Linked DNA regions of Homo sapiens: regions 2 and 3 are each linked to region 1. The links come from fine-mapping of genetic effects on gene expression. A gene starts in region 1. Each other region holds a variant in brackets. All regions are shown on one strand. Distances are from middle to middle. Region 1 holds the start of PLEKHM3 (pleckstrin homology domain containing M3). Region 2 overlaps PLEKHM3 (pleckstrin homology domain containing M3). Region 3 has its middle 23 kb from the start of CRYGD.

The links. PIP is the estimated chance that this variant, and not a neighbour inherited with it, causes the effect. A credible set is the group of variants that fine-mapping cannot tell apart.
Region 2: its variant is the best candidate, but not a certain one, in a credible set for the expression of PLEKHM3 in blood mononuclear cells (TOPMed, PIP 0.90).
Region 3: its variant is the best candidate, but not a certain one, in a credible set for the expression of PLEKHM3 in skeletal muscle (GTEx, PIP 0.74).

What each region holds. Positions count from the first base shown.
Region 1 is chr2:208,024,249-208,027,012 of GRCh38, reverse strand. PLEKHM3 (pleckstrin homology domain containing M3) reads left to right here and starts at 1,486. Exons shown (of 8, transcript NM_001080475.3): 1 at 1,486-1,624.
Region 2 is chr2:207,824,887-207,827,650 of GRCh38, reverse strand. It overlaps PLEKHM3 (pleckstrin homology domain containing M3), which reads left to right. Exons shown (of 8, transcript NM_001080475.3): 8 at 1-2,764. Among named protein-coding and RNA genes, the nearest start is that of FZD5, 56 kb to the right of the region's middle. The variant G/A (reference allele first, on the strand shown) is at 1,083.
Region 3 is chr2:208,100,411-208,103,174 of GRCh38, reverse strand. No RefSeq gene overlaps it. Among named protein-coding and RNA genes, the nearest start is that of CRYGD, 23 kb to the left of the region's middle. The variant A/T (reference allele first, on the strand shown) is at 1,233.

The DNA of each region.
Region 1 (2,764 bases):
AGAGGATGGGCCAGGAGTGAGAACTCTCATCAGAGGGAATCACATGTACAAAGTCCTGAGGCAAAAGAGAATACTGCAAATATTCTCTTTTGGTAATTAAAACAAAACAAAACAAAAAATGTACCTCTGGCCAGGTGAGGTGGCTCACACCTGTAATCCCAGCACTTTGGAAGGCAAGGAAGAAGGATTGCCTGAGGCCAGGAGTTCAGGATCATCCTGGGCAACACAGGGAGACCTTGCCTTTACAAAAAAAAAAAAAAGAGAAAGAAAGAAAAAAGAAGTTAGCCACGTTGTGGTGATGCGTGCCTGTAGTCCTAGCTACTCAGGAGGCTGAGTTGGGGGGATCCCTTGAACCCAGGAGTTCAGGGCTGCAGTGAGCTATGATCGTGCGACTGCACTCTGGCCGGGGCACAGAGTGAGATCCTGTCTCTAGCAAAACAGAAAAAAAAGTACCTCAAATTGCAGGGTTTAAAGAAAGCTTATTTAAACTTTGAATATCAACCAAAGGAAATTTTTTCTTAACTCAAAGCTTAAAGATTTGCTTATTAATCTTCTGGAGGGTGGGAAGGTGGGAAGAGGAATCAGAGTTTTAGATTTCTGTTTCATCCCTGACCCCTTTGACCTTTTTTTTTTTTTATCATTCCTTTGTTCATTCATTTATTCAGATATATATACATTGGGCCTGTGCTAGGTGCCTACTAGATGGTGGTGAGTGAAACTGAAATAGTGCCTGCCCTCAGGGAGTTTATAGGTGAGATGGGTGAGCGTGGGAAAACCAATAAAACTGATAAATAAGTGTGTACTTATAAAGTGAGAAAATGGCTAAGAAGTGTGCTATGATGGAAAACAGACAGGAAACTGCAAGGAAGGTCTGTCCAATCAGACCAGCATATCCCTGCAAAGCGACCACAGTCACTGCAGGTGGGATGTGGGCGGTCTTACCAGGCAGTCCTGCCCGCGTGCACACACACGCACACCCTATTTTGCTGGGAATCCGCAAGTGGGGGTGAAGACCTCACCTCAAAACCACCCCTTTTCAACCTGCGTAGGAAAGGACAGTGAAAACGGATTTTCACTGCAGCCCCAAAACCGGAAATGAGAAGCAATCTCCAGAATAGTCCCACTTTTGGAAAGAACTTATTTGAGTAATTAATTCCCTTAGACAAGGGAGCTGCTAAAAACCAGCCCGATCCTGACATGTTCTAAGTGACATTTTCCAATCGCAAACACCCATTTTGGCGTTGGGTGGAGCAGTGAGGAGACTCCACGACACACGCCATTGCTTTCACAATGTGTACAAGAGGAACTGTATATAAGAAAGCAAAGAAATAAGGAGGCCTGGCGGGTGCGGTCAGGCCTTGCCTAGCTGCCGGGTCCCTCGGGCAGGAAAGACTCGTCCTCGCGGCCTGGAACCTTGTGTGTCCGGCTCTGGCTGCCCGGGCCGCCGGCGGAAGCATTTCAGAGTGGGACCGCGAGAAGCCGCTTGTAAACAGAGCCGGGCCGGGATGGTCAGCGCCCGGGCGGGCTGTCACCGTGAGGCGGGCGGCAGGCTGCGGGAGTCAAGCCCCTCCAGGAGCGGACTGAAGGCCCCGCAGGTGAATGGAGAGTAGCAGCCGGGGCCCAGGTGAGCATCCGTCTGCTTCTGTGCTGCCTGGCCGGCCAGTTTGGGGGATGGGGTGGGGACGACTGCATTGTAAATATCCGAGCAGCTCCCAGGGATAGCAGTGATTTTGCTGTTTCTTGCATGCTCAGGTTTTTATTACGTGCTGGAGATTGTACCACACTGCAATGGCTAATGGGTGAGGGGAGATTACATGATGCATTGTCTGCTTATTTTTGTGAATCAGGTATGTAATAGGAGGAGAAAGTAGTTGAAATAGTAGGTGATCTTGTTGAGTGCGTTATTAGTATCCCTGCCATCCCCGCCTGGGGATTATAAAACCAAACCCCAGCAGAGCTTTTAACCTACATCAGGCTGGGGCTTCCAGAAAACGATTGTTCTTTCTGTCGACTCTGTCCGTTTTTAATGTATAGTAAATGACACCACATGACTGATGACAAGCATGGTTTGGTCTTGTAGGAAAGAATTATTAAGCTAAAAAATCAAGATAAGAAAATCTCACACTCATCCCTTAAACAAAAATAAATTACTACTGAGATATATATTTGGATGACAAATTGAGACTGGTCTGGATGTATACCTTGCAAAGCAAGACAAATTTGAATTTACCAGGTTAAACTGAGATTGAGCCATGCTGTTGTAAACTTATTTAGAAGTTTATTTCTCTCTTCTTTTTTCTTCCTTGGAAGGGACCAGAGAGAAACAGCTGAATTTTTTTCTCTATATTTTAAGTAATCGTAGTGAGTTGTGATTTGTATTTATAAAGTATTTTATTATAAAATACTACATGTAAATTATAATTGGCATACTTAAAATACAAGGCAGTTTTTGACTGACTGACTTCAAGAAAATGCCTTAACAAAAGCTGGGCTATATATCTAGTCTCTAAAAATATCAGTAGACATTTGTAACCTTGGTCACATAGTCTTTTAGACAGGAGATGAATATTAGGTTAAATTGCACCTACAATAGATAGATATACATAGAAGAAATGATACTAATTCCTGATGAGTTTTTCTTTACAATGAATATTTTTACAATGTCATGGTTTATAGCAAAAACTATAAAGCCAGACTACTTCAGTTTGAATTCCTGCTTGGTCACTTCCTAGTTGTGTAATCTTGGGCAGTTTACTTAGCGCTT
Region 2 (2,764 bases), 200 kb after region 1:
GAAGTTAATCTCAGAAGTTTTTTTCCTGAGAAGAGAAGAAACCTCTGCGACCAATAACTGCGTGTTGTCGGTCTGTTTTTCGGTACTAATCCCATCACCCACCTAATGATGTGACGCTCCACCGTGTTTTCCAGGCTGTACACATGGCTTTCTTAACAGTTTTCAACGGGTGCCCATGGTTGATATTTATGATTTTTTTCATGATGCTGGCCGGAGGAAATGTCCTGGGGTGGTTGTTAAAGACATCGTCGTGTAGACTGGTAGATAAGGCTATCTAGTAAGTATATTCCCAAAGAGGGTCGTTTTAGTTTCTTTTCTCAGAATCCTGTGGAGGCAGTTCCTACCTATTCATTTTAAGTGCTTTATTTCTCGTTGTTCTTCCTGCACTTTCATTTCGACCTTTGTCAATGTGACCATTCTTGCTTTCTCATTTTTTTGTTTAAAAAATCAGAGTAATGTGGAACTTCAAAATACCAACTTTGGACTATTAAGAAAATACAAACTTACAAGTATAATTAATGAATTAGATCTAATATTATTTAAATAAATATATATATATACACACACATATATAATTGCCACCTTGAAGTAAAACAAAGAGTGCTAAAATAAATAATAGGAGTAAGAAAGAGATCTGCTTTGCTATTTGGCAGGTAGTGTTCTCCAGCTGCAGTGCCCTTGGAAGAGCACGTGGCAGTCACTGTGACCAAAACGGCAGGTAGGACAGCCCTGGGACCCTGACAGCTCCCATTCCTTCCCCTTAACTCTCCCTAGAGCAAGAAAAATATGTTTATAATGGAACAGTTCTCAGTAGACTTTATGAGAAGATTCTGTAGCTTTCGCGCTGAGCAGATGCCTTCTATGTCTTCATGGTTTAGTAGTTTTGCTGCTATTAGGATCAGTGGCTCACAACATACTTGGTACATTCAACCCCATTGCTCCTTTCCCCCACACGCCGCTTCCCCAAGACCCCAACTCATGATACTTCCATCCATCTAGAGATGTGACATTTCAGACTGACTTTTGTGCAGTTAGATGTAAGCATTTTACCTCTCAACCCACACCAGTTCCTTTGGCCCCAG[G/A]CCACACATTTCACCTTAATAGCTCAACACCATACATGCATTTATTTTCTGACTATACAGTAGCCGCAACCAAGGCTTGAAAACTTGTTAAAAGGCCAGGGCCCTATTCATGAGACGCCTGACGGTGCCTTTTACCCTTAGAAAAGCAGGTTGACTTTTCCCCCACTCTAGTTAAAGAGAATGTTGCACACAAAAGAAAAAGGGTGGAAAATCTCAAACACTTGGCAACAGGCAAACAAATTTGATCATCTCCTTTCCTCCTCCTCTTGGTAAAATACAGTATTTATATTTTCCAGCCTCAGAGAAGATAGCAGAACATGATCTTTCACAAGAGAATTATAGACCTGCTTATTATAAAACAGATGTGCTCCCATGGCAAAGTGCCTTCTCCCTCCGCCCCCAGCTCCCTGTCACTGTAGCTTACTTTTGCCTTCGCTGTAATTAATGTATCCGTGATTCCAACTGTCAGCGAGGCCATTCCTAGCACACTGCATTTGGAGACCTGAAGTGCAGTGCCATCTCCTCCCCTTGTAACATGTTTGCCCTGCATACAGAATTTCCTCTCCTAGCTCACAGGCACCCAGGGTCATACCTGCCGAGAGTCAAGGGCGAAATTCTGGATCCCCGTTCAAAACATCTTTGTTTTCACCAGTCCCCATTTAGAGGGCCCTGCTAAATACGAGCAGTCCCTGTGAACTCCTAAGGAGGACTTTCCACCCACATCATTTTCTGCTTATTTTCAAAAGGGAAACAAAAAATCGATGTGTTATCACCATCAGCTACCCAGAGCTGGGTCCATGTCCAGCACTCCTGTTTCCTCTCCTTTTCGTACCACCCTGACAGCTTGGTCGGTGCCAGCCACAGGCCTATGACATTCTCTGCCACCACCACCAAAATCTGATAGGACAGAGTGGAGCCAGCTTAGGAGTTGGGTCTGCCATGAAAATTCAAAATTGCTGTTTTCAGCCCAGAATACCTTGGCGCACATGAACGCCCTTACTGTTTTCAACTTTAACAAATTACTTGGTGCACTGTTAGGTAATTGTTCCACTGCTTAGAAACTGTCGAAACAAAAGCAAATCTGTGGATTACCACCTCTTTCAGACCAAACTAATACCTGCTTTTCCTCGTGTTCCATTTTTCATCCCATATTAAATATCTTGCACATAAAACATATGAAAAAATGGCCAATTAATCTCCTGGAGCTGGCAACTGACTCCGGGGAACCGCTTTTTGCTGAAAGGCTCATTCCCTAGTGTATCACTTGAGGAAATCCCTCCTAAAAGTGCCAGAAACTCATGTGTGAGATCGTCCAACCCTGGTGAAATGTTGGCATCTAACCCCGCAGTAAAGAAGCCAGTTCCTAAAATAGACCTCATTTTGCACCGCGGCAGGAAGGCCACAAAGTACTTAAAAAGCCGTCAACTGGAATGGGGGTAGTGTTCTTTCCAGGCCCGCTTTTTCCAAAGTTAAAAGCCTCTTTATATGAAAACCATGTAAACTCTCAGCAGCCCCCTTTGCTTCACTGCCTTTTCTAGGGAGTGCATTAGAGTCATTTTTACGTCTGTAGTGCTAAAGGGTCACCTAGTTAGGAGCTTTAACATCGGATTCGCTGAGAGGGTCATCGGTTTTTGATTCTTCTAGAGTAGGCCTCCACCAAGAAGGGAATACGTCTAATACTT
Region 3 (2,764 bases), 76 kb before region 1:
TCTTTTTTTTCTTTTTTCTTTTTTTTTTTTTTTTTTGAGACGGAGTTTCACTCTTGTTGCCCAGGCTGGAGTAAAGTGGTGCGACCTCGGCTCACCGCAATCTCCGCCTCCTGGGTTCAAGCGATTCTCCTGCCTCAGCCTCCCAAGTAGCTGGGACTACAGGCACCTGCCAGCACGCCTGGCTAATTTTTTGTATTTTTAGTAGAGACGAGGTTTCACTATGTTGGCCAGGCTGCTGGTCTCGAACTCCTGACCTCGTTATCTGCCCACCTTGGCCGAGACCTTAATTCTGAAAATAATTACACAATTTTCAAATAATTTCTCTCCTCTGATTTACATTTTACTTAGGTATACTATTTTACTTATTTATTTTGGATATCCAAATATCCCTAATATTTAATAATGATAAAGCTTTATTGGAAAACAAGATTTGGATCCAGGACCAAGATGGGACTTATTGCTTCTTTCCAAATCAAACTAACCACCATCCACAGGCAGAGCAACTATGGATTGCAAATATTCTTTCCTGGGCCAGGACCTGGCCTGGTGACAGAGTCAGGCAGTGAACGTGGCGTGGACAGATGGCCCCAGCAGAGAGAGCCACAGAGACCCAGTGATGGTAACGAGGGGGCTATGACCCATTCCAAACTGAACTTTCTGTTGATTAGGCCACTGAACCATCTAAACACCCGGGAGACATTTACCTTGCTTAGGAACAAGATCATGAGACTATGAGGTCTACACAACTCAGCTGTGCTTAAATTCACCATCAGTGGAATTTATTATTAACAAGTGTTTCCATTCATGATTCGTGAATCTCCTTTTTCTTTGTACTCTGCTTCTCACATCTTCCTTTATTTTTGATTTGTGACTCTACTATTTCTTTTTCTTTTTTTAAGCAAAGAGTTGGAAGCCTTCTGTGCCACACAGAGACTAAATGGATAAAAATTCCTAAGTGCCAACTGTTTAAAGTAGCTTCCATCCCTTCCATTTAGAAAATGCTTTTATTTAGTCTGGATAAGAGCTCCACCCTGTGCTGGCCAGAAGGAAGGCAAGTATGATTTAAAAGCCTCACAAATAGAGATTATTCTGCACTTTTAAAATATGCTCAGCTATGCAGTATATATGCAGGTTAATCTTATAATTCAGCCAGTGGTTATTAAGCAAATATAAATTGTTTGAGATCTTTGTGACACATCCTAAGCATTTCCTAAGAGATAGTGAAGAGAGGC[A/T]TGCCAATTGGTCTTGAGTTAGCCCCAGTGGGTGTGGCCTTTTTGAATGGACAATCCAGCATCTACACTGTGCTTTTTAAAAGAGCTCTGTGTCGGCTGGGAGAAGTGGCTCACACCTGTAATCCCAGCATTTTGGGACGCCAAGGCGGGAGGATCACCTGAGGTCAGGAGTTCTAGACCAGCCTGACCAACATAGCGAAACCCCGTCTCTACTAAAAATACAAAAAATTAACCAGGCATGGTGACTCGTGCCTGTAGTCTCAGCTACTTTGGAGGCTGAGGCAGGAAAATTGCTTGAACTGGGAAGTGAGGCTGCAGTGAGCCGAGATTGTTCCACTGCACTCCAGCCTGGGTGACAGAGTGAGACTCCATCTCAAAAAAATAAATAAACAAAAAAATAAAAGATCTCTATGTCTTCTTCCTCCATTTCTCAACGTCTGACAGGCCCACATGTAATTTATGAAACATTGAGTTCATGAATAAAACAGACCCCACATCCGTGTTCAAACATTTCCTCCACTTCATCTTCAAGCTCAATCTCTGTGGTTTCTCTCAACGAACTGTTTAATATCCTGTACATTTTTTTCTTACCATTATTCATGAATAGTTTTTCTTTTACAGAAATCTTAATCTCTTTTATTTAAAAAAAAAATGGATACCTATTCCAAACATTGTTTGGCTGACTTCCACTGTTCTTCCTTCTCTCTCTAAGTGTCTACAGACCTATAAAGCTATCCTCATCCCCCTCATCTTAAGCTATCTCAAATCAATCTGATTGTATTCAGAGATAATGGAGAGTGTGCAGTGTTATTCCTCTACTGCCCATTTCTGCATTTGAAAGCCACCAACTTGACTCTAAAAATAACACCTGGCTGGGCACAGTGTCTCACACCTGTAATCCTAGCACTTTGGGAGGACAAGACAGCCAGATCACTTGAGCCCAGGAGTTCCAGACCAACCTGGACAACATGGCGAAACCCCATCTCTCCAAAAAAAAAAAAAAAAAAAAAAAAAAAAAACGCAAAAAAACCGCAAAGAAAAAAAATTAAAATAACACCCAAGCTATGCACCTCCAGGTTGCTTCGAATATTTCCCTTAAGTGATGTTTGTCTTTCTGCCTTGTGAAAGTTGTCAGAATCAGCCGGATGCAGTGGCTCACACCTGTAGTCTCAGTACTTTGGGAGGCTGAGGCGGGTGAATCACGGGAGGTCAGGAGTTTAAGACCAGCCTGGCCAACATGGTGAAACCCCGTCTCTACTAAAAATACAAAAAAAAATGTAGCCGGGCCTGGTGGTGCATGCCTGTAGTCCCGGCCACTCGGGAGGCTGAGACAGGAGAATCACTTGAACCCAGGAGGCAGAGGTTGCAGTGAGCCGAGATCACACTATTGCACTCCAACCTGGGTGACAAGAGCAAAACTCAGTCTCAAAAAAAAAAAAAAAAAAAGAAAAGAAAAAGAAAGTTGTCAGAATCAAACTAGAGTGACCAAGTATAAGAAAATGAAACCCTGACAAATAGGGACAGGGAAGGTT